7 linked regions of the Homo sapiens genome follow. The protein of the gene in region 5 interacts with the protein of the main gene of each other region in a biochemical or structural test. Each region holds a gene or a part of one and is shown on either strand. Other genes may lie near its edges.

Evidence for each region.
Region 1: the proteins of PDLIM7 (region 5) and CASK interact in a test that uses a peptide from one of them, tested with the Homo sapiens proteins (one large-scale study listed by IntAct).
Region 2: the proteins of PDLIM7 (region 5) and PDZD2 interact in a test that uses a peptide from one of them, tested with the Homo sapiens proteins (one large-scale study listed by IntAct).
Region 3: the proteins of PDLIM7 (region 5) and CYSLTR2 interact in a test that uses a peptide from one of them, tested with the Homo sapiens proteins (one large-scale study listed by IntAct).
Region 4: the proteins of PDLIM7 (region 5) and PDZRN4 interact in a test that uses a peptide from one of them, tested with the Homo sapiens proteins (one large-scale study listed by IntAct).
Region 6: the proteins of PDLIM7 (region 5) and GRID2IP interact in a test that uses a peptide from one of them, tested with the Homo sapiens proteins (one large-scale study listed by IntAct).
Region 7: the proteins of PDLIM7 (region 5) and TJP1 interact in a test that uses a peptide from one of them, tested with the Homo sapiens proteins (one large-scale study listed by IntAct).

Annotation. Positions count from the first base shown.
Region 1 is NC_000023.11:41,913,253-41,917,727, reverse strand, and holds part of CASK (peripheral plasma membrane protein CASK), read left to right. Parts: intron 1-4,475. UniProt on the Homo sapiens protein: Multidomain scaffolding Mg(2+)-independent protein kinase that catalyzes the phosphotransfer from ATP to proteins such as NRXN1, and plays a role in synaptic transmembrane protein anchoring and ion channel trafficking.
Region 2 is NC_000005.10:32,103,372-32,107,846, reverse strand, and holds part of PDZD2 (PDZ domain-containing protein 2), read right to left. Parts: exon of another isoform or gene 3,132-4,475; intron 1,724-3,131; exon of another isoform or gene 1,667-1,723; intron 1,560-1,666; exon of another isoform or gene 1-1,559.
Region 3 is NC_000013.11:48,708,154-48,712,027, forward strand, and holds the end of CYSLTR2 (cysteinyl leukotriene receptor 2), read left to right. Parts: 3' UTR 1-3,073; downstream 3,074-3,874. UniProt on the Homo sapiens protein: Receptor for cysteinyl leukotrienes. The response is mediated via a G-protein that activates a phosphatidylinositol-calcium second messenger system.
Region 4 is NC_000012.12:41,194,475-41,198,949, reverse strand, and holds part of PDZRN4 (PDZ domain-containing RING finger protein 4), read right to left. Parts: intron 1-4,475.
Region 5 is NC_000005.10:177,490,701-177,495,175, forward strand, and holds part of PDLIM7 (PDZ and LIM domain protein 7), read right to left. Parts: intron 1,978-4,475; coding exon 1,826-1,977; intron 1,736-1,825; coding exon 1,705-1,735; intron 1,226-1,704; coding exon 1,107-1,225; intron 721-1,106; coding exon of another isoform or gene 704-720; intron 447-703; coding exon 310-446; intron 207-309; coding exon 170-206; intron 1-169. UniProt on the Homo sapiens protein: May function as a scaffold on which the coordinated assembly of proteins can occur. May play a role as an adapter that, via its PDZ domain, localizes LIM-binding proteins to actin filaments of both skeletal muscle and nonmuscle tissues.
Region 6 is NC_000007.14:6,541,038-6,545,512, reverse strand, and holds part of GRID2IP (delphilin), read left to right. Parts: intron 1-4,475.
Region 7 is NC_000015.10:29,703,520-29,707,994, reverse strand, and holds part of TJP1 (tight junction protein 1), read left to right. Parts: intron 1-2,249; coding exon 2,250-2,467; intron 2,468-3,689; coding exon 3,690-3,833; intron 3,834-4,475. UniProt on the Homo sapiens protein: TJP1, TJP2, and TJP3 are closely related scaffolding proteins that link tight junction (TJ) transmembrane proteins such as claudins, junctional adhesion molecules, and occludin to the actin cytoskeleton.

The sequences.
Region 1 (4,475 bases), on a different chromosome or scaffold from region 5:
TGTGTTGTTTGAAGTTGTCTTCATAAATACTTCCTGTGGACTCCCTTAATTTTTATGTCCGTAACACGCTTCTATGTACTTGACATACGCAGTTCAGCTCTCTCCATTTTTTCCTTGTATCTGCAACAGTTTCACCTGATGAACTACGTCTCAAGTGTCCCTAAATTGTGTACCTGGATATTTCCTTTAAACTGAAAATTCTGTCTCCAGCTGTAGTTCTACTCAATAAATTGAAGGAGCAGATATACCTTGCTTCTTGAGATTATTCTTGAATTATTACATTTTCTTAAACGTTTTCACATTTTAAATGTGGTAGGAGCACTGCATTTAAAGGAACTTTGACATAAGGTTGTTTAAAAAACTTCTATAACTTAAAGCTTACTTTATAAAGGGATTGACATTTATCCCTCTAATGTTAGGCATTTTGGATGTATTATTTAATCATACCCATTTTACAGAGAACACTGAGATTCAGAGGGGGTGATCAGTAATTCGCCTAAGATCACACAGATTCCAACGCGGTTCCATGGTTTTAAAGTCTGTTCATTTCATGCTGCATTCTGCTGCTAATTCAAGTTGTGAAAATACTGTGTTGGATTTTCTTAAAGACACGTCTTCATTTTCAGAGTTTCTATACTGCAAATTTTAGTTGTTTGACTTTCTGGTTAAATTTCTTATTTCTTCAGTAGAGGTTCCATATACTATTCATTCTTTCATCTGTTTCTTTTTTATTTTTGTCTTTCTCTTTAATGAAACATCAGCATTTGTTACCAAACTAACTGGTAAATCTAGCAATGGAAATATAGACTCTTGGCCATCTGTCCAAAATATAATTTGTTTTGGAACTTTCTCTACTTCTTTTACTCTCCAAATTTTTTCTTCCATTTCCCTTGCCCCAACAGACAGGATAGTTGATTAATTACCCCTAACTTGCCAAACCAGAAGTAATAAGGTTTCAGAGGTAGATGTTTGTTGGAAGTGGGGTGGAGTGGTTTCCAAAGGATAGTTATTCCTTTATCCTGTGATAAAAATACGGAGATTGTTCTCTCTGATTCTGAAAACCGTGTAGTGAGCTGCAGCCGCTGAGTCTGTGAGCTTCTAGCTGTTTGCCAGCACTGTACACCTTAAATAATCAAGAGACTGAGTTAACTATTGCAGAGCAGGTACCGGACCCCAGCCAACAAGCTGATGGGATGTGCTGTTCTCACATTTTTTGGTTTTATTTTTTAGTTGCAACTGACAGTGAAGATTCTAGAAGCACCAAATATGGCTCTGGATTTATGCTGTGGGATTTAAGATGCTACAGAACTTGCTCTCCTTCCTTTCTGTCCTGGAGCCACTATGGTATTGGTTGTAGAGCCCAAGTCAGTATAGAGTCTCTGACTTCTACCCTGGGAAAATTTCATTTCCGAAGCTAGTTTGTTTTGAAGTTAATGTTTATTTCCAACATTGAGATTTAATAATTTTGTGTTACTTTTCTTTATTAATTAGTTTTTATACAGTAAATTATAAAAGTAATGATGCACGTAGTAAATTTTATTTTCTTTTTTTGAGATGGAGTCTCGCTCTGTCTCCCAGGCTGGAGTGCAGTGGCACGATCTTGGCTCACTACAACCTCCGCCTCCTGGGTTCAAGTGATTCTCTTGCCTCAGCCTCCCAACAAGCTGGGATTACAAGCATGCACCACCGCGCCTGGCTAATTTGTGTGTGCGTGTGTGTGTGTGTGTGTGTGTGTGTTTTGAGACGGAGTCTCACTCTGTCGCCCAGGCTGGAGTGCAATGGCGCGATCTCGGCTTACTGCAAGCTCCGCCTCCCAGGTTCACGCCATTCTCCTGCCTCAGCCTCCCGAGTAGCTGGGACTACAGACGCCCGGCTAATTTTTTTTTTTTTTTTTGTATTTCTAGTAGAGATGGGGTTTCACCATGTAAGCCAGGATGGTCTTGATCTCCTGACCTCGTGATCCACCCGCCTTGGCCTCCCAAAGTGCTGGGATTACAGGCGTGAGCCACCGCGTCCAGCCTAGTTTTTTATTTTTAGTAGAGACGGGGTTTCACCAGGCTGGTCTCGAACTCCTGACGTCAGGTGATCCACCTGCCTTGGTCTCCCAAAGTGCTGGGATTACAGGCGTGAGCCACTGTGCCCAGCCATACAATTTAAAATATAGGTGATACAAAGATAAGTAGTGAGTCTGTCTCAATTCTCCTACCATCCATATCCCCATTCTCTAGAGGTAACCATTGTTCAGTTTCTTCTCCATCTTTCTGGAAGCTTTTTGTTTAAAAGTGAGATATTTGTATACTATGCTGAAATATTGATTTTTCATGAATAATAGTATATACTTGATGATCTTGTCATATCCATCAATGTATCTGTCTGTCTCTATCTCCTCTTTAGCTGCTGCCCAGTATTCTGTCATATGGATTGTTACTTTGGCTTTGGATTGAGTGCAAGCCAATTGTAATTTTACATTGCTTGAAATGCTGAGCTGGAATTTGGGTGAGAGGTATGGAATGGCAGTGAAGATTTGGGAGTCATCTGTGTGGAAGTAAAACTGAGTGAACAAGTTCTTGGGGGTTGACTGCTCTAGGGCTCGTGGTTTGGAGTATAACTCATAGAGTTAGAAGAATCAGGATAATGGGCTGCACAGAAGTTTAAAAGAGGGGGGAGGATCAATAATGTAAAATGCCAATATACTCTGAGGACTAAGAACACATGTGGCTATAACAGAGAAACAATTTAAAGCACTTATCAAAATGAATATTATGTTTAATAGTCAATTCATGATGTGTCTGAAAAGCTAGGTCTGGCTTCTTTTCTGTGGATACTAGTAATTTTATACTATCTCTCTGTAAATCTATCTCAGAACCAACATATTTAGGGTAAAAACAAAGTAGATTTCTTTTTCACTCTAATTGTGTTTTGCAGATTTCTGATGACTGGCTTTTAGGTAAAATCATTTGGTTTTCCTAAGATTATGTCCTTTTCATTCCCGAGCTTGTGCATGACTGTCAATTAAATGGAAGCCTTTCATGAAGTGACAAAGTAAGTTTTAGATACTTTACATTTACTTTAAGTTCTTGGTATGTGTCAAACCACTGTTATTGTCTTATATCTTTCTACTATAGGAAACTGAATTCTTTCTAGCCTCAAGGATTTTTGTCCACGTTGGATGAATGTAGTACTGTCCTCCTCTTTCACATTTCTTCTCCCATCACCTCCTAACTAAATTTGTTCATTGGCTATTTTTGGTTGTCCACATCCATTCACAATAAGAAACGATTGCTTCGTTGTACATAAGCCAGTTTTTTGGTATCTAAGTGCGTGCTATTTCACTTCAGCTTCTTGTATTCTATTTATTACTGGGCTGTTGTACATTGTTTTTTCTCCCAATCTTTGTGATTTCTTTTAATATACTTTCTTTCCTTTTTGCTTTGTAATCATTGTTTTGAGTATTTGAATCATTTGCAGGTAAGAATGTGGATTGTTCTGTCTCTCATGTAGTTTAATAATATCCAAAATATACTATGTTCAGTCTGTATTTCAGGCTTTTAACACTTAAGTTAGAGTATTTTGGTATATTTAAATCTAGGATAGAAGTACACTGTATTACCATTCAACTACATGCAGATTTTAATGTTTTCTTAAATTAAAGGATGATGATATTCATTCAGTTACAGAGGTCTCTCTCTCTAGTCCTTCCATGGTGTGCAGATTACCATTATACTACTGCTATTTCATAGATTCTAATTTGTGTTTTTAGAAAACATCATCAATTCTTGGCCTTCTTTCTTACCCTTGGTATGTGATTTCCCCTAAAGGTATGGAATGCGGTTGCTCTGTGGCTTGTTAGGCAGCCCCCTTCTGATCTGGTAACCTTTGGGCACAGTGTGGCTATTTTCTCCTTATTTATAAAAGGAATGATAGCTGCTTCACAAACCATTTGTGTGGATTAGTGAATTGTAAAGTGCAGCATAAGTATTTTTTATTTCTAGAATGTCTCTGAGATACTCAAATTACTTTTGGCAGTTATGTACGTAAGTTTCAACAATTTCCAAATGTGCACATTCTCAGTGCTAAACACAGGCTCTATTACATAAATAATATGGTGAAATGAACATTCTTTTCTACCATGTGTGTAAAATTGTTAGTGGTGCTAACTTTTATTCATTGTTCATTTATGTATTCATTTCTAGCTATGAGGTCCTGGGCAAGTTAGTTAGCCTCTCTGACCCTCAGTTTCTTTATCTGTAAAATGTGGTTAATGGTATATACTTTGTAAGGTTGTTGTGAGGATTGAATAGCATGATCTATGTGAAATGTCTAAAGGTTGTTATTTTAATTGCCATTGTCATTATTATTATTTTTTAAATTTTATTATTATTATACTTTAAGTTTTAGGGTACATGTGCACAACGTGCAGGTTTGTTACAAATGTATACATGTGCCATGTTGGTGTGCTGCACCCATTAACTCGT
Region 2 (4,475 bases), about 150 Mb from region 5:
TATTTCTTAGAACACAAAAAGCATATATCCATAAAAGTAAACTGGTCTACAGAAAACAGTGCAACTCTAGCCCTCCTGCCGCCCCTCCAAACATAATCTGTAAGATAAAAATAAACTGACAAGGGGAAGATACTCTCTATGTATTTAATCAACAAATGGTTAACATCCAGACTAAAGAGCTACAAGTCAACAAGAATAACACAAAATAAAGTTGGGGTAAGGAAATCAACAGCTGAACTCCAAACAGCCAGTAAACACAGAAAAGCAGGTTCAACTTTTTTTGTTGTTGTTGAGACGGCCTCACACTGTCACCCAGGCTGGAGTGCAGTGGTACAGTTTTGGCTCGCTGCAGCCTCCGCCTCACTGGGCTCAAGCGATCCTCTCACCTCAGCCTTCAGAGTAGCTGCTACCACAGGCATACACCACCATGCACAGCTTTTTTTTTTATATTTTTGGTAGAGATGGGGTCTTGCCATGTTGCCCAGGCTGTCAGCTTCTAATTGTTAACAGATTCTGGCTGATATATGCAAGTTCTGAGAATCAGTGATTATGTGCTCATTAGTGACCATGGGGACTACTTACTTACAGAGTTTAGCATGTTCACATTATAGCTTTGTCTAGCTTTGTATGAGCTTTGAAAAAAATGCAAGTGTAAACCCTCCATTTACGTTCTCACACATATACTTCTAAAGGTACACCAGCTATGGAGGCATCTTATGGAAAAAAAATGGCATTGAAAGAAAAAGTCCCAAGTGTGAAAAAAATTTTCTCAGAAATTTTGATTAGACCTCAAAAGACTGAGCAGATGTATCGATTTCATCCTAAATTACTGAAAGTCGTTATTGAAATTATTGAAATAAATATTATGTGATAAAAATACAGCTTGGAAGAAATCCAGCCCACACAAGGACAAAAACATTTTCTGTGGTAAATGATAGAGGCAGTTAGTTACATTAGAAGAGAGACCTCACCAATATCAGCCCTGTAGTGGGCCCCAGGAAAATGATTTGGTCCCTAGTCCTTGCTTTTCTTGAGATAGATACATTTTTGGAAGGACCAAAGAACCAATTATATTTGTGTTAACTTAGTACCCAATGTCCTATTCTAGCATATTAACCGAAGGCCTTCAGGTTATGTGAAACAAAAGAATTTTGTGAGTGTTCACCTGGGCTTCAGGACATGGGAGGTTCCAGGCAACCAGAACAGCCTGACGCACACTGAAGGAGCAATCAGACTGGGTTTGGTCTCAAATCTGTGACTTCAGGCAAGTTACAGATTTCTCCAAACTCCAGTTTTCTCATCTGCAAAATGGTGATGATGATATCTGTCTTGTTATCTTACTAGGTTGTTAGAAGGACTGAATGAGATGAAGTAGAGGAAAGTCTTCTAGGACAGGGGTCCTCAACCCTTGGGCCACAGACTGGTGGCAGGAGGGCTGCACAGCAGGTGAGCAGTGGGTGAGTGAGCAAAGCTTCCTCTGTTCACAGCCTCTCACCGTCACTCACACTACCACCTGAGCTCTGCCTCCTGTCAGATCAGCAGCAGCATTAGATTCTCACGTGAGTGTGAACCCTATTGTGAACTGCATATGCGAGGGATCTAGGTTGCATGTTCCTTATGAGAATCTAATGCCTGATGATCTGTCATTGTCTCCCATCACCCCCAGATGGGATGCCTGGTTGCAAGAAAACAAGCTCAGGGCTCCCACAGATTCTACGTGATGGTGAGTTGTATAATTATTTCATTATATATTAAAATGTAATAACAGAAATAAAGTATACAATAAATGTAATGCACCTGAATCATCCTGAAACCATCCCCCACCCAAACCCTCACCATGGAAAAATTGTCTTCCACAAAACCAGTCCCTGGTGCCAAAAAGCTTGGGGACTGCTCCTTTAGGAAACATTCAGTGTTGTACAAAGCAGAGGTTTGCCAGCTTTTGGACTTTTTACACAAGAGAGAAATAAATTCTCTCGTTTAAACCACTGCTATTTTGGATTTCCTATTACATGAGGCCAAACTGAATCTTAACAGATTTGAGCAGGATATGTCTCTCTCTCCATTTACTCATAGATTTTTTAAAATTGTCCTTTAGAAAGCTTTTATGCTTTTTCCCAAAAAGGTCTTGCATAGCTTTTGTTGAACACATTCTTAGGTTCCTTATGCTTACCATGAATTGGTGTCACACAGTGCACAATCTGCATTTGGCTTTTTTTCATTCAACACTGTTTTTGAGCCGGTCCCAGTTAGTATATAGAGAGAGGTGTAATTTATTTTTTCAACTGCTATTTAGCTTTCCTTTAGATGAATATATTTTATTCTGCTACAGATAGAAATTTAAATTGTTTCATAGCTTCCATTTTCGTAAGCACTGCTAAAATTTTCCTTAAAGATTAACCAGTAGATACTTGCACGAGAAAAAAAATGTGTTTTCCTTTCTCCACATCCTTGCCAACACATCATAGTATGAGATTTTTTATTTTTGGCCAACTTGATAGATTAAAAGAATGATTTATAATATTTCTAATTTTCATCCAATACATTTAAGTTTGAGCATCTTCCTGTGTTTCTTGGCCACCTAGGTTTTAACTTCTGTCCATTTGCTATTGCTTTCTTTACCCAAACTTTCTCTCTTGTATTTTTCTTACTGAATTATATAGTTCTTCATATATTCTGGATTGATTGATTGATTGATTGATTGTTTTTTTTTGAGACAAGGTCTCCCTCTGTCACCCAGGCTGGAGTGCTGTGGCACAACCATGGCTCACCACAGCCTCGACCTCCTGGGCTCAAATGATTCTCCCACCTCAGCTCCTGAGTAGCTGGGACTATAGGTGCGTGCCGCCACACCCGAGTAATTTCTGTATTTTTTGTAGAGGTGGAGTCTCGTCATGTGGCCCAGACCGGTCTTGAACTCCTGGGCTCAAGTGATCTGCCCACCTTGGTCTCCAAAGTGCTGGGATTACAGGTGTGAGCCACGGTACCCTGCCTATTCTGGATATCAACCCTTTGTTTATTAAATATATTGTAAATATCTTCTAATCACTTACTTTTGAATTTGCTTATAAATTTTGCCATATAATGAACATTTTATATGTTTTTTTTTTTTTTTTTTTTTTTTTTTTTTAGATGGAGCCTTCTCTGACCCCAGGCTGGAGTGCAGTGGTGTGGTCCTGGCTCACTGCAACCTCCGCCTCCTGGGTTCAAGTGACTCTCCTGCCTCAGCCTCCTGAGTAGCTGGGATTACAGGCATGCACCACAATGCCCAGCTAACATATTTTTAGTAGAGACGGGGTTTCACCATGTTGGCCAGGCTGGTCTCTAACTCCTGACCTCAGGTGGTCCACCCACCTTGGGCTGCTTAGGAGGCTGAGACACCAGATTCACTTGAACCTGGGAGGCAGAGATTGCAGTGAGCAGAGATTGTGACACTGCACTCCAGCCTGGGTGACAGAGCTAGACCCTGTTAAAAAAAAAAAAATTCTTTATTATTCAAATGCTTGTTCTGTAATAACCTTACTCAAAGAAATCAGTCTTGCTATATTGTTTTCTAATGCTTGAGCTTAAAGACACAGGAAAACAAAATGAACAGAAAACCTGTACTCATGAAATTTGTAAATATGAAATACGAGATAAGGTGAATCCTGACCTCAAGTGATTCGCCTGCCTTAGCCTCCCAAAGTGCCGGGATTACAAGCATGAGCCACCATGCCCGGCCAGATAATGACATCTTTAGTCTCACTAGTTTCCAAAGGTGGGATCTGCCGTATCATACTCAGAAATACTTGAATGGCTTTCCCCAAGAACAAAACCACAGGCTTGCACACGAGAGCATCTAAAGCGCTAGTCTGTGGGACTGACAATTTTCTTCTTCTCTATCCATTTCCATAGCAGTTTTCACAGATTTGTGGCCAGATGCTAGAGACAAAGGCTGAGAAGTTGTCCAGGACGTCATATTCTTGCTTTGCTGGAGGCAGATCTGAAGGATGTCATCTCTCCTGTGGCTTCTTCTAGTGTGGGGTCCCGAAGCCTGGCTTCCCCAGCCGATGTGCTGCTTTAGTCAGCGTCTGCCCTGGTCCTTCGGTTCGCAGGCTCACACGCTTTTTTGGGTTGTGTCCCTTTGGACTGCAGAGGCTACGTGTCCTGTGACCAACCACGAAGGCGGCCACTCCCGCTCCCCTCAGGAGTGTCTTAAAATACCTCCATTTTAGCTACCCTATTGAATGACAGGTTAGCTGGGTGCTGGGTTTTCAGGTGATGGACATTTTCCCTCAGTCCTCTGAAGGTGTTGCTGGCTTCAGGCATTGATGCCGCCACTCTGATTGTTGTATGCAGTGAGCAAACTAGAATTTTCTCTTGGCTTTCTAGATTTTCTTCTTTATATTCTGAAACTTTATTATATCAAGGTTTGAATTTTATTTTTTTTGGAGACAGGGTCCTACTCTGTCATCCAGGCTGGAGTGCAATGGTGC
Region 3 (3,874 bases), on a different chromosome or scaffold from region 5:
CCAGATCTCTGGCCCATCAGGCTTTCTAAATTCTTCAAAAGAGCCACAACTTCCCCAGCTTCTCCAGCTCCCCTGTCCTCTTCAATCCCTTGAGATATAGCCAACTAACGACGCTACTGGAAGCCCCAGAGCAGAAAAGAAGCACATCCTAAGATTCAGGGAAAGACTAACTGTGAAAAGGAAGGCTGTCCTATAACAAAGCAGCATCAAGTCCCAAGTAAGGACAGTGAGAGAAAAGGGGGAGAAGGATTGGAGCAAAAGAGAACTGGCAATAAGTAGGGGAAGGAAGAATTTCATTTTGCATTGGGAGAGAGGTTCTAACACACTGAAGGCAACCCTATTTCTACTGTTTCTCTCTTGCCAGGGTATTAGGAAGGACAGGAAAAGTAGGAGGAGGATCTGGGGCATTGCCCTAGGAAATGAAAGAATTGTGTATAGAATGGAAGGGGGATCATCAAGGACATGTATCTCAAATTTTCTTTGAGATGCAGGTTAGTTGACCTTGCTGCAGTTCTCCTTCCCATTAATTCATTGGGATGGAAGCCAAAAATAAAAGAGGTGCCTCTGAGGATTAGGGTTGAGCACTCAAGGGAAAGATGGAGTAGAGGGCAAATAGCAAAAGTTGTTGCACTCCTGAAATTCTATTAACATTTCCGCAGAAGATGAGTAGGGAGATGCTGCCTTCCCTTTTGAGATAGTGTAGAAAAACACTAGATAGTGTGAGAGGTTCCTTTCTGTCCACTGAAACAAGGCTAAGGATACTACCAACTACTATCACCATGACCATTGTACTGACAACAATTGAATGCAGTCTCCCTGCAGGGCAGATTATGCCAGGCACTTTACATTTGTTGATCCCATTTGACATTCACACCAAAGCTCTGAGTTCCATTTTACAGCTGAAGAAATTGAAGCTTAGAGAAATTAAGAAGCTTGTTTAAGTTTACACAGCTAGTAAGAGTTTTAAAAATCTCTGTGCAGAAGTGTTGGCTGGGTGCTCTCCCCACCACTACCCTTGTAAACTTCCAGGAAGATTGGTTGAAAGTCTGAATAAAAGCTGTCCTTTCCTACCAATTTCCTCCCCCTCCTCACTCTCACAAGAAAACCAAAAGTTTCTCTTCAGAGTTGTTGACTCATAGTACAGTAAAGGGTGGAGGTGATATGGCATTCTGAAAGTAGGGAGGGACTAAGTCAGTCATCATACTAAACAAAAATCCCAGTACCCTTTCCTTATTTAGCTACCAGAATGATGACAGACAGACTCAAACCCTGTCAAGACAGGACCCTGGAGGATCCTCCTATGGGGAAACTGCATAATCTGAAAAAAAGGCTGACAGATACAAATAGTTGAGGATCCTTCAACACAAAAGCTGCGTGTCTGCCCTATTACTCACCTGACGATGAAGCCCACAATGCAACAAATCCCTTCCACTCACAGCATTTGGTCAACCTGTCAGAGCCTCATTCTTAATTATGAAAAGTAGTCAATGAACACAATACATTTGAGGGAAAGGCCGTAACATGAAAGGCACCAACAAATAAATGTGAGAGTAGATAGAGACCTTTTGAGTATAAAAGATCCTCCAAAATAAGAGATTAAACCAAGATAGAGGAAAACACAGTAGCTGGGAAACAAGGAATCCAACGCAGGAGAAAGTGAAGAGAATTCCCAGGATGTTGGTGTGTAGCAGGCTTAGAAAGCAAGTCATTCATGTTGGAGCAGGACTCTTAAAGGACTCTAGGAGAGATGTCTCCCAGAAAAAGAAGAAATTAATTGATTCATACACATTGAGAGGGATTTAGATTTCTCTTGCAGAGATTGAGATAAACTAGTCGTAAATACATAGAAAAATAAGCAAGTAAAAACGCAATACAGTTTTTAAGTGCTAGAGGAAAAGAAACTTTTGTATTAGAGAGGAAATATAACCACAGTACACTACATGGCTCAGCTGTGAATAATATTTACATAGAGGATAATGTGAATATAATAGTCTCCCATTATCTGTGGTTTTGCTTTCTGCAGTTCAGTTACAGCCAGCCAGTCTGAAAATATTAAATGGAAAATTCCAGAAATAATTCTTAAGTTTTAAAACATGTGCTGTTTTGAGTAGCATGTTGAAATCTCGCACTATCACCCTCCACCCATGTTCTGGGCAGGGCAAAGTGGGATGGTGTGAGATTTCTCCAGTGGATCCACAATGTATATGCTACCCACCCATGAGTCACTTAGTCATCATCCAGTTGCTCAGATCAACTGTTGTGGTATAACAGTGCTTGTGTTAAAGTCACTCTTATTTTACTTACTAATGTCCCCAAAGCATAAGAGTAGTGATGCTGGCAAATAAGATACACCAAAGAGAAGCTGTAAAGTGCTTCCTCTAACAGAAAATGTGAAAGTTCTTGACTTAATAAGGAAAGAAAAAAAACACATGCTGAAGTTGCTAAGATCTACAGTAAGAACAAATCCATCTGTAAAATTGTGAAGAAGGCAAAAGAAATTTGTGCTAGTTTTGCTGTTGCACCACAAGCTGCAAAAATTATTTATTACACCCCACGGTGTGTGATAAACACTTAGTTAAGATGAAAAGGTATTAAATTTGTGGGTGGAAGACATGAACAGAAATGTGTTCCAATTGACAGCAATCGGGTTTGGTACTATTTGGGTTTGGTGCTATTCGTATTCAGGGTCTTGGAATGCAACTCCCACAGATAAGGGGGTGCTGCTGGAGTGAAATACTGTGATATAACCTTTTTTTCAGGAAATGAAGGGAGAAGATGTGTACGTGTGTGGGAGAGGTATAAGAGACCTAGGTTGCCATATTCTATCACAGAAAATGCATAATAACTAAATCTGGAAAATGATGAATAGCTGTACAACCATATTATTTAGCAATAGGAGGTAAATACAGGTAGAAGCAGAAGAAAGAATGGGCAGGGGTTACCTCTATGGAGAAGCTGGGGTGGGAGGATAGGGTGGGGACTTATTTTACGAACTGTGTAATTGCCTAACTTGTGAATATGTATTTCTGAAGTAAAATAAAAATTAAGTTAAAATTAAATTTTAAAATTCAAACTAATTCTGAGTTGTTTTTTAAAACAAAAACAAAAAAAGACAAGAAAGCCCATCAGAAATGGAAACTGAACATTGACAGAAGAAAGGAAAGCAGGAAAGGACCAGAGTTGTATTTCAGTTCTTGAGAGAAGCCCATCTAGTCCTGCCATGGGAGGCAAGTCCTTTCTTGGGGTGAGGAAAGTCACTTTCTGGGGTTAGAGAGATTTTGATATGTTACTTGGGATATTTTTAGTTGCAAGTAACAGAAAACCCTACCCCAAGTGGCTTACATAATAAAGGGATTTGATTATCTCATATAACTGAAATATACCGAGGGAAGTTGGACTTCAGGCCTTGTTCAACCAGGACATCTGTGGGCTTTCCTCCCCAGATGTTGGCTCTGCCACATGGGTGAATCCTCTCATGGAAACAAGCTGACTGCAAGCAGCCTGAGACTACACACTTCCTTATTTGTTTCTAAAGCAAACTAATGAAGAATGGATTACTCTGAATGAGGATGATGACAGTACACACCTAAAGTAGTTGAGGTGAAACCCGCTGAAATCTCATCTGGGAAAGGGGTGAAATGGGGCTTGCAGAGGCCACATATGTACTGCAAATGAGGTGGAGAGAGAGCTGCCAACCAGCTAAGCATCCATGCTGGGTGTGGCATGTAACTGAGCAGGCAGCCGGGCAGCTTTGGAGGGTGGGGGGAAATGCAGGCTCTAGGAAGAAGGGCAAAAGTTAAATTTTGAATTTCGGTTGTGAAGTCGTAGGGATTTTCAATTGTCAATGAGAAACCTTAACAACTTTCCAAGGGCA
Region 4 (4,475 bases), on a different chromosome or scaffold from region 5:
ATAGTGACCACAGAGAATGCAGAGGTATAACATTACAGAAATAAAAGAAAGTGTAGTTGGTAGTCTGGCGATAGTTAAAAAGTTTCTGATTTGTGAAACTCTTTCTTCTGGTAATAAACAGCACTTAATGGAAAGTGCTACACTGACACTTCAATGTGGGAACTATTTCTATTTATTATTATTATTATTACTATACTTTAAGTTTTAGGGTACATGTGCACAATGTGCAGGTTAGTTACATATGTATACATGTGCCATGCTGGTGTGCTGCACCCATTAACTCGTCATTTAGCATTAGGTATATCTCCTAATGCTATCCCTCCCCCCTCCCCCCACCCCACAACAGTCCCCAGAGTGTGATGTTCCAATGTGGGAACTATTTCTAAAGAAAAGGAAAATGCCTTTTATGCTGCATTGCATTATGAATTTCAAGGTAAAAAATAGAATAAAAAGATTTTAATATATACACTAAAAAAAATCCTCTGCTTTGTGCTCTGAGCTATTCATCTCAAAGATTCCACAGACCTTCAGCCCCACTCTGGTCTCCAGAAGTTGAGAGAAGCACTGTGCCTCCAGCACTGTTTCAAACAACATTGGCCTGGAGCTGCAGGGGTTAGGGGAGTGCTGGGAGAAGAAAGTGTAAACAAAGAGCCATGAATGATTATCCACCCTTTCCCACTCTGGAGTTATGGTTGCATTGCCTGCTATCAGTATCATAGAAATAAGAGAGGAGACTGGGCACTATGGCTCACGCCTGTAATCCCAGCATTTCAGGAGGTCAAGGTGGACAGGTCGCTTGAGCCCAGGAGTTCAAGACCAGCCTGGGCAGCATGGTGAAACCCCATCTCTACAGAAAATTTTTAAAAAATTAGCCAGGTGAGGTGGGGTGCACCTGTAGTCCCAGCTACTTGGGAGGCTTAGGCTGGAGGATACCTTGAGTCCCAGAGGTAGAGGCTGCAGTGAGCTGTGATCATGCCACTGCATTCCAGCCTAGGTGACAGAGCAAGATCCTGTCTCCAAAAAAAAAAACCCAGAAAAAACAAGGAAAAGAAGAAGAAGAAGAAAGAAAGAAAGAATAGAGGAATCGATGCTAAAAGCAACAGTGAACTTTGTTTCTCAACTCCCTCCCACATACCACTTAGGCATCCTAACATGATGATAACTACAGCAATGGTCATGCCTTCTTCCAGAATTGTGCCCAACCTTCGATAGGATCAGGGATTTTCTGTGATTCCTTTGATTCTTGAAAGAATGAAAAACAGCATGCTTTTATTCAGCTGTATACTGTGGTGAATTCTTGGTGTATGTGAATTTCTGTGATGTTTCAAAATGCCTTCAACAATATCTTCTGCCTTTTCAGTCTCCAGTGATATTTTGACACCTAGTGTAACTCAACTATCACAACTGATTTTTTAAAATTTACAAGCATAAATAGTTTAACAAATATGGATGTGGAAATAGCTAGAAACTGGTTAACATAGTTGCTTGTGGAGACTGACTCCAAAAATTAACTTGCCTTATATTATGTGAAAAATATGACATAGGTTTACCTAATGACAGTAATTTTTTATTCTTTTATTATTCTTGAATTTTATCAATAGAATGCAAATATTAAAAAATAATACGTGTTACTAGCCTTTGTTGAACTGTGGCAAAACTATTATAACTAATATATTATTTATTAGAGTTTATAAAATCTTTTTAACCACCAACAGAACAAAACCTTTAACATGTCTACTTCCTCTTCAAGTGAATAACTTTGGAAAATTTTATTATTTTTTAAAAACAATTCATAAACTTGTATGTGTGCATCAAGCAATTAGCTACAGAAAATATTTTTGAGCATATCTTGACTATATATAAACCATAGAATCTCTTATTGTTTTTATTTTTTATTTCAGTTATATATCAGTAAATTCAAAGCATTTAGTAATGTGTCAGATTGTGCATAAGTCATACGGATAATTTTATAATATATGAACTAGTTTGTACCCTTTACACTGTTAACAAACTTACTTGTTGCACCAGGTTTAAATCAGCATGACCATTTGAAATTCAAAAATTGAGCCATTAAATTTGTTCAATGAACAAATCTTTGATCACAAAACAGAAAATAAATTATTATCTTTACTTTAAAAATCTGTTTTAAAATATGCATCTGCACATTTTAAATTGATAGATTTCTTCTCAATTTCCAATTAGCTAAAAACTGCTTAAAGTTGATTGATATCATAATGACAGAGAAACTAAAATAATGATAAGCATCAAATATTTCTAACTTTAATGATTACATAGGGATCTTTTACAACACACACCATATGCACAAGAAAAAACACACTTCTTGTTTAACTAGATATTAAAGTCACACAAATATCTATTCACTCAAAAAGCCGATAGCATCACTGAACAACTAAGCAAGAGCAATTTATTTCTAATAATCTTCTTTCTAAAATATTTCATGCTATTTAACACACAACATTCTAGAAATATGCACCTCATCTAACCCATTTCTTAACTGCAAATGTGGTCACATTGATCCATTCTACAACTATAGCATATATACATAAAATCAATGTACCCTGGTATAAAAGACACATTGAAAAATCTATATCATTGAGACAAATTTCAAGCTCTAGTCATTAACTGCTAATATATGCAAATGAAAGTGAATAATAATACCGCAGCTAGTTAAATTTCATTTGAATTTCTGTGGTTGACCTCCTTACTTTTTATCTTACAGGGTTTAAATAAGGTTAATCTGACATATATTAGTAACAGTACTATGTAGGTGTCTAGATGCACTTGATTTTCAACCATAGTTTTATAAAATTACCTCTTTAAAAAAAACAGTAGGTTTGTAACCAAATTGTTGTATGACAATATAAAAAATTCTTTTTCTTTTCTAATGTAACATTAATGAAGCATACATAATATTGTCATCTAGCTAGAATAAGTTATTTTTTAAATTGCCAATACGTATTTCTGTTGTGTCTATGTGTTTGTGTGGGTGTAACAATATATGTATTCAGTTCCATCAGTTCTTCTAATAATATCAAATGTAGGAATTTATTTTCCATTGGTAACTGGACAACTTAATATGTTTTTGAGATAATGCAGAAAGTAATAGGGACAATCTTCTGTTTAAAGTATGTTGCCCTTTAGATCATACTGTGCACATTCTAACTTTAGAAGCTACAGCATGTGAATGTTTCCACTAGACAAATTGTCAAGATGAACTGGATAGCAACAGCAAAAGTAGGTCTGCACTTTCTCGGCAACAAAACTGGAAGAATAAAAATCTTGATACAAGAGACCTCTTTAGATATAAATCAAAGTTTTTTTTTTGGCAAAAGATAACTCTTCTTTTTTTTCTAAATTTTGTAGTCGGCTAATTTATAAATGTTGTGTTCTTTTTTCCCAAAACAGCAAACTATTGGGTCTTCTATATTCTTCACTCTTACTCTATGTCGATTCATTAAAAATTCAACTTTGTTTAGTGCACAGAGGATGAATGAAAAGCTAAAACTTTATTTAAAATTTAATATAGAAAATCTGCCTCCATTCTGATAGTTTATATAAGTATTCAGAGAGATAGCACTAGTGATTATATAGCCTAGAGTGAACAGAATTTTTAAAAACAATAGTGGAGTCAAGTAAACCTTCCAAATTCCTATTTATAGCTTCACTAATCCATTGGAAATAAACTCACTGATAAAAGTAACTTAACCATTTTTGGCAACAAAAAGTAATATTATCTTAACCAGTTAATAAAATGTCAAAAGGACAGAGATGGCAGATGGCAGGGACATAAAATTTCATTAACATAACCCAATTTTACTAGCATATAGGTGCTCACTTTATCACCCCCGAATACAACAATACAGTTAAAACATACAAAGAGTTCTCACCAGGTTTTCACAACAAAGAGAAAAAAAGGTATTTCTCTTTTTCTTTCATATAAAAGATAATGACAGGAACAAGGTAGCCATATTACACCAAGAAATATTAAAAGTATTGTATAATTTATTCCAAACTCTACATATAAAATATTAATTACAAATTTAAAATATAATCATAGTTCCTCATCAGAAATGTTCCTCAACAGAGATTTATCATCCTTTTTTGAAATGTTATAATAATTAATCCTTTAATAATCAAGCAAGTGACATCATAGTTCATGGGAAACACAGGTTATTAAAACAGAGGTATTCATTAACACATTTGAAAACTTCAGGCATTTTATTCTTTCATCACAATATCTAACGAATTATATAGAATCATAATAGAGTTTTACTTCTTTTTGGAGGCAGCGTCTTGCTCTGTTGCCTAGGCTAGAGAGCAGTGGCCTACACACAGCTCACCACAGCCTTGACCTCCTGGGTTTAACATCGAGTGATCCACCCACCTCAGCCTCCTGAGTAGCTGGGACCATAGGTATGTGCCACCATGCCCAGCTAATTTTTTTGTTTTGTTTT
Region 5 (4,475 bases):
GGAAGGAGGAAGGGAAGGAAGGAAGGAAGGAAGGAAGGAAGGAAGGAAGGAAGGAAGGAAGGAAGGGAGAATTGAGAGCCCCAGCTGGGAGCCTCAGGAGTAGACACAGGGCAGTAGCTGGAATGGAAGAGGCAGGAGGTGGGAGAGGGGCTGGTGCCCGTCCCTGTACCTTGATTTCTTCAGGTGCTCCTCATCCGGGTCTTGCACTGAGAGGGCAGAGGCAGGCATTGACCAAAAAAGACACAGGGTCAGGGATCACGCCTGGGCTGGGGGCGAGGAAAGTACCCCCTGCCCTGGGCTGGCACTTACTGAACTCGGTGCCTGTGAGGTGGGCAAGGATGCGGAAGGAACGCGACTGGCCTGTCCCCGGCCGCGGCCGCCAGTCCTCTGTGTTCTCCATCAGCCGCTGCTTGCTGGCATCTGGGACCAGCGGTCGGAGCGGCTGTCTGTGGGGAGGGTGTGGCTCAGAACCCCACACTGGGGGTGGGCGGTGGGGGCAGCCCCTCCCAGGATTTGGTGCATGTGGGTTTGGGTTACAGTGATGGGAGGGAGTGGGTAAGGGTGAGGCCAGGAGCCCTGCTGGGCGGGTAGGTGAGAGGACAGGAGGGCGAAGTGGAGAGGAGGGCAGCCAGGGTGGGGAGGGGCCGCCACCCAGAGTGCCAAAAGGAAGAAGAAAGGCACAGGCAGAGGGGGGCTCACTGACTTGTCAGGGGTCTGCACCTGTGAAGGAAATAAGACAGACAGACAGATAAAGGGACAAAGGGACAGACACAGGAGAGGAAGAAAGACGGGGAGGGGTCAGAACAGCCGGGGACAAGGCGGCACTGAGTGTCTGGGGCTCAGCTGGCCCGACACCACAACCCAACCCCCAGCCGCCAGCAGGGGGCGCGGCGTCATTCAGAGACCCCTCCCCAGGGCGGTGCCCTGCAAGGCGCCACAGCCTCGGGAGGGGCCCTGTGCCTGCAGCCCCACCCCGGCCGCCAGGGGGCGCTGCCGCACGGTTCCGCCGGGCTGGGGCGCAGCACAGACTGAGCAGCAGCGGGCAGCGGGCGTGGGGCCACAGTGGGCCTGATGGCGTGGGCGCGGGCGGGCAGGGGCCGACGTACCCATTCTGCTGCGGGGCGCTGTCAGCGGGCGGGGGCGCCCCAAAGGGCCGGGCCGTCTTGTTGAGGGAGACGCTGGGTGCAAAGGTGTACCGCGGAGGGTCCGCGGCGGGGGCGGAGGCCTGGGCAGAGACACAGCCGGGCAGGGCGGGCGGGCAGGGTAAGGTGGGGGCCTGGGTGGAAGTGGGGCGCCTGCAGCAGAGGACAGCGGCAGCTCCAGCCCCCCACCCCCACCCCACCCCCTACATCTATTTGGAGGCTACGGGGAGAGGACGACTCAGGTTTCAAGGGGCCCATTTGGGAGTGGCGATCTCAGTCCACGCAGGACCGAGGGCTGACCGAGTGCGGGCGAGCACGCAGCGCCGGCGGCGGGAGGCAGCAGGCGGACAGACAGGCGGACAGACAGGCGGACATGCGTGGTGCCAGGACCGTGCAGCAGCCCCTGGCTCAACTCCAGGGCCCTAGACCCGCCTTAGCTCCGGTTTCTGCCCTCCACTCCCGGCCAGGGATTGGGGTACCGAGAATGTGCCAGGAGGGCGAGCAGGCCTGGCCGTCCAAGCCCACACCGCCCACCGCCCGGATGTCCCGGCCAGCCTCGTACCTTCTGCGGTTTGCTCTGAACCGGCTGGGCCCTGGAGGAGAAGGAAAGCGTGACAGCGGGCCGGGCCCGCAGGGATCCCCACTGCCAGCGCGGGCGCACCCATCCATGTCCACCCGCATACCTGCTGAGGCCCAGGCTGAGGCGCTCCCCGCAGGCCCGGATCTTGTTCTGAGCTTCGATGTGTGTGAGGCTACCCGCATTCTCGCCATCGATGCTCAGCACCCAGTCACCCACGGCCACTCCGGCCTGCGCCGCTTTGCCCCCAGGAGTGAGCTGTGGAGAGAGAAGCAAAGTGACCGAGGCCCTGGACCCTGCAGACCCAAGCCAGGCTGACGGTGGTAACACTGCCCCACCCAAAGCTGTCCCACTTCCAGAACCCAGAGAGCTCTTCATTCAACATAGTTCTAGGCAGCTGCTGGACACTAAAGCAACCCAGGAGGTGGTGGCGCTCACCTGAGCTTCACAATTTCCCAGTCACACTGCTTATTTATTCACTGCCAGACCCTCTCCCTCAGGTGGTGCTCACCTGAGCTTCCCCAGTCACGATGCTTATCTATTCACCGCCACCACCCTCCCCCACAGTCCAGAAATTGCTATGATGTCCACAAACAGCCACGCTCAGGCTAAAGCCCAAGTGTTTCAGGAGGACCATTGCCTTTTGAGGCTCCTGCTGGCCTCCTGCCCAGGCCACTCCACCTACCAGATATGCCCTCTGGCCCATGCAGGGGGCAGCTTCCTCCCCGAAACCACCGGGGGCTCTTATGGACCTCTCACCCCCCAGCACCCTGTCGGGGGCCATCTATAGGGGTCTGCTGGGACCCTTTGAGAGCCAGGAACAGGCCCTGTTATCTCCCGGTTCCCTGTGAACACTGCCTGAATGGGACCTAAGTTGACAGCTGGGACTTCGTAGGCCATACATGGCTGTCACTCCCAAGCCCTCGACTGCCAATTTCCCCTGACCCCAATCCTTCAGGCTCTTGAGCTGGGAGTCCCTGGTTCCTGTGGCAATGAGTAGAGACAGTAGGCTGGGAGAAATGGCTGCCACCAGCATGAGCTGAGACCATCAGGAATGACTTTGAGGAAGCGGTGGGCCTCGGTAAAGGAGAATGGCGTGTGCTGCCTAGCGGGTGAGAGTTCACTTACGATGGCTTTGAATGCCAGGGGAAGGGACCAGGACTTGGCTTTGAAGGTAGAGGGGCTACTGGCAGTTTTAATGTCTGGGATTGGGTATCTCCCAGGCCCTGAGAGGGTGACCCTGATAAACCCCTTCCAGGCCTCTAGCCCAGCCCCAGCAACACAGGCAGGGCAGCTTGACTGGGTCCAAGCCTAAGGGACCACCCAGCCATCTGGCAAGAGGCCTGGCACTGCATCAAGTAGGCTTTTGTGAGGCAGTGCTGGAAGACAATTTCACTGGGTGGGGGGGATCTGGGGGGGTCCAGGCTGCCAGTGGCCCCAGGAGGCTCCTCAGGTGGGTCAGTGCACAGACTGAGCTGAGGCAGGGAGAGGGGAGGCAAGAGGTTTCAGAGAGATGTCAGAGGGCAGGGCAGCCAGGCACAGAGCTTGACAGCACTGGGAAAAGAAAGGCGAGCTGGGCTCAACATGACCTCTTGCTTGCGTAGGAGGTCAGAAGGCTAAGAGAGCTCGGCGGCCCCTTCCTCACTCGCTAGATAAGAAGACTTGCTTCAGTTTATTGAGCACCAACTATGCTACATATTGACACTGAATCTTCCAACAACCTTGTGGAGTAATCTGGGATTTTACCCATTTTGCACTTGCAAATGTACACAGAGAGGTTAAACAACTTGCCTCAAGTCACCCAGCTAGTAAGAGGCAGAGCCAGGAAGTGTCTCTGACCCTAAGGCTCCACCACTGTGGGCCACCTCTGCTGAGCATGGGGGCCCAACTGAGGGGTCAGCCCACCTGGAGACACCCTGAGCCACTCCCTCACCTTTAGTTCAATCCAACTAAATCAACCCCTTATACTGTGTATGGGGAAGTGACACCCCAGAGGGGAAGTGACTTACTCAAGGTCATGGTGAGTCAGTAGAAGGGAAACCTGGCCCAGCCACTCCCTGCCCACAGGGCTGGCTCCTGGGAGCTGTGGGCTGAGCCCGAGGTGGGGGTCTTGGGGTGCAGCTAGCTGGCTCCTGGAGAGGGGGTGGGGGGCGGGGACGGCTTCCCTTCCCAGAGTGAGGAGGGCAGGAAGCACAGAGGATGAGGGGTGTTCAGAGCGTGGGGAGGGCAGCAGGAGAGCAGAAGACAGCGCTGGGCGGGTGGCTGGAGAGAGGCAGGGAGGGGCTCAAGCCAGGGGCAGGGTAAGGCCAGAGGAACCAAGGAGGGAAAAAGCCAGGGGGCTGGACCCTGCATGAGGTGGGGGTGAGTCAGCCTGAGCAGCCCAGCCCCCCAGTCCCAGACGTTACCTCATCTCCCAGGCCTGGGCCCACAGCCAGCCCTTGCCCCTCCCACCTCCCTCCATTCTGGGGTCAGGGGAGGGGGAGGGGGCTGGCCTAACTCAGAAAAGCCCACCTCACCCACCCATGTGGGCCCAGGTCCAACTCCAGGGCTGGGATCAGCTAGTGGCCCCGCCCACATGCCAGGGATGCTGACCAGGGAGCTGGAGCCCGGAGTGCCCCCAACAGGCCATATCTGAAAGTCATCTCCATCAGGGAAGAAACTGAGGTTCAGGCTCCCCAGACACACTGGGCCAGCACTTTCCCAGGGAGCAGGACGTCAGGTAGGTTTCAGGGCTGTGTGAGGGCTATGTAGTGGGA
Region 6 (4,475 bases), on a different chromosome or scaffold from region 5:
ACAGTTCCAGAGTTCAAGAGCGAGCTCTCGGCTGAAGATCGAGGTCTGAGAGTCACTGTCTGGGGTTCTTCGCCAGAGCTGGGTCGTGGAGAGCCTCAAGTGCAATAGTGAACTGCAGTGGCAAAGGGCAGTGGTACAGAAACAGCACGTGTAGACGGCTCCAGACTACAGAAGGGAGGAGAATGAGCAGCTTTCAGGATCAAAGGAGGATTGTCTTTTATTTATTTATTTATGGAGACAGGGTCTTGATCTGTCACCCAGGCTGGAGCTCAGTGGTGTGATCATGGCTTACTGCAGCCTTGATTTCCCGGGCACAAGAGATCCTCCTACCTCGGCCTCCCAAGTATCTGGTAGCTGGGAATACAAGCGTGCACCACCATATCTGGCTAACTTTTTACTTTTTCTTTTCTTTCTTTTTTTTCTTTTGAGATGGAGTCTGTCTCTGTCACCCAGGCTGGAGTGCAGTGGCGCGATCTCGGCTTACTGCAAGCTCCGCCTCCCGGGTTCACACCATTCTCCTGCCTCAGCCTCCCGAGTAGCTGGGACTACAGGCGCCCGCCATCACGCCCACCTGGCTAATTTTTTTTCTATTTTTAGTAGAGACGGGGTTTCACCGTGTCAGTTGGGATGGTCTCGATCTCCTGACCTTGTGATCCGCCTGCCTCGGCCTCCCAAAGTGCTGGGATTACAGGCATGAGCCACCGCGCCCGGCTGTCTTTCATTTTTTAGAGACAGGGTCTGGTTATGTTGCCCAGGCTGGTCTCCAACTCCTGGCCTCAAGTGATCCTCCCGCCTTGTCCTCCCAAAGCTCTGGGATTATAGGCATGAGCTGCTGTGCCCAGCTTGTTATTTATTTATTTATAGCCTGAGAGAGACTTGAACATTTATATAAGCTGCAGGGAATGGAGAAGTAGATATACTGAAAACCATGCAGGCCGGGCACAGTGGCTCACACCTGTAAACCCAGCACATTGGGAGGCTGAGGCGGGTGGATCACCTGAGGTCAGGAGCTCGAGACTGCCTGGCCAACATGGAGAAACCCTGTCTCTACTAAAAACACAAAACATTAGCTGGTTGTGGTGGCGGGTGCCTGTAATCCCAGCTACTCAGGAGGGTGAGGCAGGAGCGTCGCTTGAACCCGGGAGGCAGAGGTTGCAATGAGCCGAGATCATGCCATTGCACTCCAGCCTGGGCAATAAGAGTGACACTCCATCTCAAAAAAAACAGAAAGAAAAAAGAAAAAGAAAACCATGCATTTACCAGTCATTGATCATGGGCCTATGATGTGCAGGACAGGGGAAACAGCCATGAACAACACAGGCAAGGAGCCTGACTTCACACACCTAACATTACTGCAGGGAAAGAGACAGTAAGCAAGTGGATTAATCAATACACAAGCTATTAAAGATCATGACAGGCCAGGCACGATGGCTCAGACGTGTAATTCCAACACTTTGGGAGGCCGAGGTGGGAGGATCACCTGAGGTCAGGAGTTTGAGACCAGCCTGGCCAACATGGTGAAACCCCATCTCTACAAAAATTACCAAAATGAGCCGGGCGTGGTGGCATTTGCCTATAATCCCAGCTACTTGGGAGGCTGAGTCAGGAGAACTGCTTGAACTCAGGAGGTGGAGGTTGCAGTGAGCCAAGATCCCACCACTGCACAGAGCGACAGAGTGAGCGACAGAGTGAGACTTTCTCTCAAATAATAATAATAATAATAAAATTAAATTAAATTAGCCAAGCACAGTGGCGTGCACCTGTGATCCTGGCTACTCGGAAGGCAGAGGTGGGAGGATCGCTTGAACACAGGAGTTCAAGGCCACAGGGAGCTATGATTGCACCACTGCACTCCAGCCTGGGCAACAGAGCAAGACCCTGACTCCAGAAAAAAAAAGATGATGATGAATAAAGTGGAGGCATAAATAGGGTGAGGTGAGAGTGACGCAACCCACTTTGACAGGGTGGCCAGGAAAGGCTGCCTGATGAGATGATCTTTGAGCTGAAAGCTGAATGACAAGTAGGTGGCAGGAAGAAAGGGGTGGAGACTGGGAATGGTGAGGTGTCTGTGGCCTGGTGATTTGGCCTTGACTACAAAGGGGGCTTTTTTTTTTTTTGAGACAGAGCCTCGCTCTGTCACCAGGCTGGAGTGCAGTGGCACGATCTTGGCTCACTGCAACCTCCGCCTCCCAGGCTCAAGCAATTCTCCTGCCTCAGCCTCCCGAGTAACTGGGATTACAGGCGTTTGCCATCAGATGCTCAGCTAATTTTTGTATTTGTAGTAGAGATGGGGTTTCACCATGTTGGCCAGGCTGGTCTCGAACTCCTAACTTCAGATGATCCACCCACCTTCGCCTCCCAAAGTGCTGGGATGACAGCCGTGAGCCACCGCACCCGGCCGGAAGTGGGCCTCTTCAACCTCTGAGAGCAGAGGATGGAAGGGAAGGATGCGGAGTCTGTTGAGAAGTTTGGAGGTGGATGAGGGTGAGAGAGGCGGGGCCTGACAGCCCCAGTTCAGGCTGAAGTTGCACCCACAAGTCCTCGAGAGAGGGAGACGTGAACGACTCATGGACTCACTCAGCCGCCCAGCCTTGCTTCAGGGTCAGCTCCAGCTGTCAGTGCCCAGAGACAACCAGACCCTCAGCCAACAAGGGAAGGGTCTCATGGAGTATGTGCTTTCAGTGGCTAAACTGTATGACATGTGGGCAATTCGATGGTTTTTAATATATTCACAGGATTGTAACACCCATCACTACCATCCATTTTCAAACAATTTCATCACTCTAACAAGAAATTCTGCACTCCTTAGCCATCACTCCCTATTTCATGGTTTTATTTTCTTATTTATTTATTGAAATGGGGTCTTGATCTGTTGCCCAGACTGTATAGTGCAGTGGCACAATCTTGGCTCACTGCAGCCTCAACTTCCTGAGCTCAAGTGATCCTCTCACTTCAGCCTCACAAGTAGCTGAGACTACAGGCATGCACCACCACATCTGGCTAATTTAAAAAAAATTTGTTTGTAGAAATGGGGTCATGCTATGTTGCCCAGGATGGTCTTGAATTCCTGGTCTCAAACAATCCTCCTGCCTCGATCTCCCTAAGCACTGGGATTACAGGTGTGAACCATTGCCCCCAGCCCTGCCAGGATCTTGCCTCCCACCTACTTTGGGATTTTCTTTTTTCTTTTTTTTTTTTTTTTTTTTGAGATGGAGTTTTTGCTCTTGTTGCCTAGGCTGGAGTACAATGGCAAGATCTCGACTCACTGCAACCTCCGACTCCTGGGTTCAAGCGATTCTCCTGCCTCAGCCTCCCGAGTAGCTGGGATGAATAAAGGCACCCACCACCACGTCTGGCTAATTTTTGTATTTTTAGTAGAGACGGGGTTTCACCATGTTGGCCAGGCTGGTCTCAAACACCTGACCTCAGATGATCCGCCCCCCTTGGCCTCCCAAAGTGCTGGGATTACAGGTGTGAGCCACCGCGCCTGGCTGAGATTTTCCTCTTTGTTTTTGGCCTAGATAGCCAAGAAACTACAAATATCTCCCACATGGATGTACTGCAATTATTTAGCCCCCACTGTCAGATATTTATATTGCTGCCAACGTCTTAGTGTTAGAAATAATACACAGGTGAACCACCTCACTCATACATCATCGTGCATGTGTCTTGTCAGGATGTGTGTAAGATAAATTCCTACATGTGAGATCATTGGGTAGAAGGATGGGCTTTGGACACACTTAACAACCTGCCTTCCAGAAACGTGACCATTTGCATGCTCATTTCCAACATGACCATTTGCATGCTCATTTCCAATGTGCCCATTTGCACACTCGTTTCCAACGTGTGCATTTGCACGCTCGTTTCCACCATGTCTATTTGCATGCTCCTTTCCAACGTGATCATTTGCACACGTTTCCAACGTGTCCATTTGCACGCTCATTTCCAATGGCCACACACTCCTGTGTGCAGATGTGCCTTGATTAGTATCAGCTGGTTTGTGGACAAAGACAAAAGTTTGGAGAGAGAACTGAGGGAGTCAAAATTCAGGGCCAAGCTGACGTGCCAGGACTTTTTTTGTGGAGTCAGAATGTTCTGTGTGGGATCTCTCAGCGCACAGTATGGAAGGGAGTGTAGTATTATAATAATAGTAACTAGCAATTACTGAATGTGTGGTGTGGTTTTAAGCTTTTATATTAATTCCTTTGATCTTTACGATATTTATTAGAACAGCTCTCTTTGGGTTTGAATCCTGACCCTTCACTTTCACCCCGTGACGCCGTCACCTCTACCAGCCTCAGTTTCCTTACATGGAAAATGAAGATGCTGGCCAAGAGAGGTGGCTCACACCTGTAATCCCAGCACCTTGGGAGGCCGTGGTGGAAGGATCACTTGAACCCAAAAGTTTGAGATCAGCCTGGGCAATATAGCAAGACTCCATCTCTATAGAAAAAAAAAATTTAATTAGCCAGTTC
Region 7 (4,475 bases), on a different chromosome or scaffold from region 5:
AACTTCTGATCTCAAGTGATCCATCCGCCTCCACCTCCCAAAGTGTTAGGATTACAGGCGTGAGCCACTGCACCCAGCCAGGAGCCCATACTCTTAACCAGCCATGACCTTTTGTAACCTCCTGACCTACTGGTAAGGTGCATGTGGAGGACATCTAAAAACATTAAGTATCTATGTTCCTCATTCATTATTTGTTCCACAATGATGCTAAGAAGAAAAATAGAATAACCTCTGACTGTTTAAAGAGCAGCAGTTAGTGAGATGGCTGAGCAAATGAGACAAAGTGAGCCCACCTGGAGCCTCCCTGCAGCTCCTCTTTCCTGTCTTTCATTCCACGGCGATTGACCAGATGGATTCTGGCCATACATAAAAGCTCATCTCAGCCTCCTACAGCCAGTTCCATTTTCACGCCACCATAAAGCAGAAGCACTTGCAGGCAGGGAGAACCAAAGGTCAGGATGGCCACCTGAGTCTGCTTTCCAAGAGAAAGGATGGTTATGGCGGTCACTGCCTTCCTAGCTCTGCACATCCACAGATGGTCAGGGGCGGACAGAGCTGGCCTCTGCTCTGCAGCTCAGGCTGCGCTCTGCTCCCTTGATGTTGTGTCGTAGGATGTCGTCCCTGGCACTCCGGTCATGCTGGAGTGAAACGGCAGCTACCTTCATGTAATTCTGTTTCGTTGGTCTTTCTGCTCACCTTTGAGCCCTGGCTCAAAACTGTACTTTCAGGAAGTTGATAGCCTCTACTTTTGAAGCAGTCATTGATACCACATCCCCTTTGCCTTTGGCGTTCTGTGATTACTAAGTTAATCTACTGTCTCTCTTTCGTGGATGTTTGGGATATGCCCATACAAGGGTCTTCGCCTCATGGAACCTTGGAAGCCTTGCCTCCTACAGCCAGAGCGGGCGCTTGGTCCTCAGGGAATGCTGAGGCAGGACCATACTCAGGCACACTTAAAATCCTAGGGAGATTTTATCAAGTCTGAGATGCTGTCAGCCGTGAGATGCACCATTGTTTTGTGTCACTAAAAATGGAAGAACAGCCAGGCACGGTGGCTCATGCCTCTAATCCCAGCACTTTCGGAGGTTGAGGCGGGCGGATCACTGGAAGTCAGGAGTTCCATCCTGGCCAACACGGTGAAAACCCATGTCTACTAAAAATACAAAAATTAGCCGGGCATGGTGGCAGACGCCTGTAATCCTAGCTACTCAGAAGCTGAGGCAGGAAAATTGCTTGAACCTGGGAGGTGGAGGTTGCAGTGAGCCAAGATTGCACCGCTGTACTCTAGCCTGGGTGACAGCAAGACACTCCATTTCAAAAAACAACAGGAAGGGAAGAACAGGGCTACCAATTAAATTGTGACTTACCAGTTTTAAAGTTCCAATTTCATGGATTTTAAAATGTGCTTCATAAAACTCTGTACCTGTTTAGTATCCCTTGTCCAAACTTCTTGGGTTCTGAAGTGTCTCATATCTTGGGTTTTTTTGGATTTTGGAATATTGCCAAAATGCTCCAATGAGCATTTCCTTTGAGCTTCATTTTGACACTCAAAAAAAAGTTTCCGATTTTGGAGCATTTCAGATTTTCAGGTTAGGGATGCTTCACCTGTAGTTGGGTGTTCAAGGCATCAGATTTTACACTTTCAGGTTGCAATTCATTAATGAAGGTCGTTTGACTAATTGCCTTCAAAAATTGAATTTTTGACATTTCTCTAGAATTTTTGAAATTTTCTAGAATGGAATTTCTCTAGAAATAATATTCTCGCCAGGCGCGGTGGCTCACGCCTGTAACCTCAGCACTTTGGGAGACCAAGGCAGGTGGATCACGACGAGATCAGGAGTTTGAGACCAGCCCGGCCAATATGGTGAAACCCCATCTCTACTAAAAATACAAAAATTAGCCAGGCTTGGTGGCGTGCGCCTGTAGTCCCAGCTACATGGGAGGCTGAGGCAGAAAAATCACTTGAACCTGGGAGATGGAGGTTGCAGTGAACCAAGATTGTGCCACTGCACTCCAGCCTGGGCGACAGAGTGAGACTCTGTCTCAAAACCAAACAAACAAACAAAAAAGAAATAATATTCTCTGCGATAACCCTGTCAGTAAAATCTGTTGCCAGAAACTTATCTTGTTAAAGTAACTTCTTGATTATATGGAGAAATAAAAGTGAAAGCACGTAATACAGTAGTAGTAAAAGCAAAGCACCTGTGTATTATTAGGAATTCACTCACTAGCCATTTCTGAACTTTCAGTCCTTCAGCTGTGGAAGAGGATGAAGATGAAGATGGTCATACTGTGGTGGCCACAGCCCGAGGCATATTTAACAGCAATGGGGGCGTGCTGAGTTCCATAGAAACTGGTGTTAGTATAATTATCCCTCAAGGAGCCATTCCCGAAGGAGTTGAGCAGGAAATCTATTTCAAGGTCTGCCGGGACAACAGCATCCTTCCACCTTTAGATAAAGAGAAAGGTAAATGTGTTTATTTTTCTCCTTAGTTTTGATAACTTAAGAGTTGCCCTGTGTGCACTTCAGAGCTTATAGTGCTTGGCTAATAATGCAGCACCTCTCTATCTCCAGATGAGTGCTGTAGCGAGGGGTGCCCTGGGGACGGTGTTGCAAGCAAGCAGTGGGTGGCCTGAAGCAAGGCTGTGGTGACCACACTGCCTGCTTTTACTTTTGGTGTGAAATAAAAAATGATGGCATAGGACAGGCCACGGGATGTCTCACCTGCTGAGCAGCCTAGGCTGACCTAACCAAATTTGTCTTTGAATCAGTCAGCCTTTGCGTCTCTGGAGATGGGTTAGGTAACACCCACTCAGAAAGGCTTTGCTGTGCCTTCACCTGATTGGAGAACCTAAACCTCTTGACAGGTACTGTCTTATTCATCACCCCAGAACCTAGCACTAGTACATGCTCAGCAGAGTGCATGAAGGAGTCTCAGAGGAGATGACAGCATGTTTCTGAGCTTCTTAAGGAAACTTATTTTCATAATCCTCCTGGATCTACCAGGATATTATAACGAAGTGTGTTGTGATTTAGCATCTTTTAGCAGTGCTTTTACTTCCTAAACAAATTTAGTTCGCTTTTTTGTATTTTGCCGGAATACTGACATCTGATTCTGTACTCTGATTTTGGGGATATCCTGTTTTAAAAACCAGTAGGACTGACTGTGTTGGCCCTGCATGAATCTCTTTAACCACCTATGGAGCAAACAAAACATTTTGAAAATGGAAAATATATCACATTCGCAACAAGCACATTTGAATATGTTTTTTATTATAGACCCATATGATTGAATGCAGTAGCCACTGCCTGCACGTGGCTAGCTAGCACTTGAAGTGTGACAATTTGGGATTGAAAGATGCTGGAAATGTGAAATACACACCAAGTTCCAAAGATTTCATATATTGATTACATGTTGAAATAACAGTGTTTTCGTTATATTGAGTTAAAATATTAAAATATTGTAAGATTTGATATCACTTGTTTCTTTTTACTTTCTAACGTGGCTACTGGGAAATTTAAGATTCCATATGTGGCTGCTGTTACGTTTTTTTGTGGTCAGTGCGACTGTAGAGAACTAACTCCATTAGGCTTTCAAGCATATAATTAGAAGCAGGGTGAGGAAAACTGGGATTCTAGAAGAAAGACCACATCCATCCTCTCTGCCTATCCCCTTTTCCAACTCCAGGTGAAACACTGCTGAGTCCTTTGGTGATGTGTGGTCCCCATGGCCTCAAGTTCCTGAAGCCTGTGGAGCTGCGCTTACCACACTGTGCGTCCATGACTCCTGACGGTTGGTCTTTTGCTCTAAAATCATCCGACTCCTCGTCGGGTATGCTGTCTTCACTCTGTCCTTTGGGAGCTTTGGGGACTGTCGTTGATTAATACCTGGGCTGATGATGCTGCCCATGCTGTGTGTTAGCAAATCTCTATCTCTGTTCCTGTGGCCTTGTAGGCATCACCAGTGTTTTCACATTTATTTGTGGTGCATATATTGTAAATAAATATGGAAAGGTAGAAGACTTTCTGCCTTTTAAAAATTGATAATTTGGGCCGGGCGCCGTGGCTCATGCCTGTAATCGCAGCACTTTGGGAGGCTGAGGCAAGTGGATTACCTGAGGTCAGGAGTTCAAGACCAGCCTGACCAACATGGTGAAACCCCATCTCTACTAAAAATACAAAAATTAGCCAGGCGTGGTGGCACACACCTGTAATCCCAGCTACTCGGGAGGCTGAGGCAGGAGAATTGCTTGAGCCAGGGAGGCGGAGATTGCAGTGAGCCAAGATCGTGCCACTGCACTCCAGCCTGGGCAACAGAGCGAGACCGTCTCAAAAAAATTTTTTTTTGATAATATGGCCAAATATTGACTATTTCTTGGTGTTCAGAAAAATGATTTATTCTGTCAAATTTTTCAGGATGCAGTGGGAGATATTGTCCTGCACAAATAGGCATTTTTACCTTATTAAAATGACT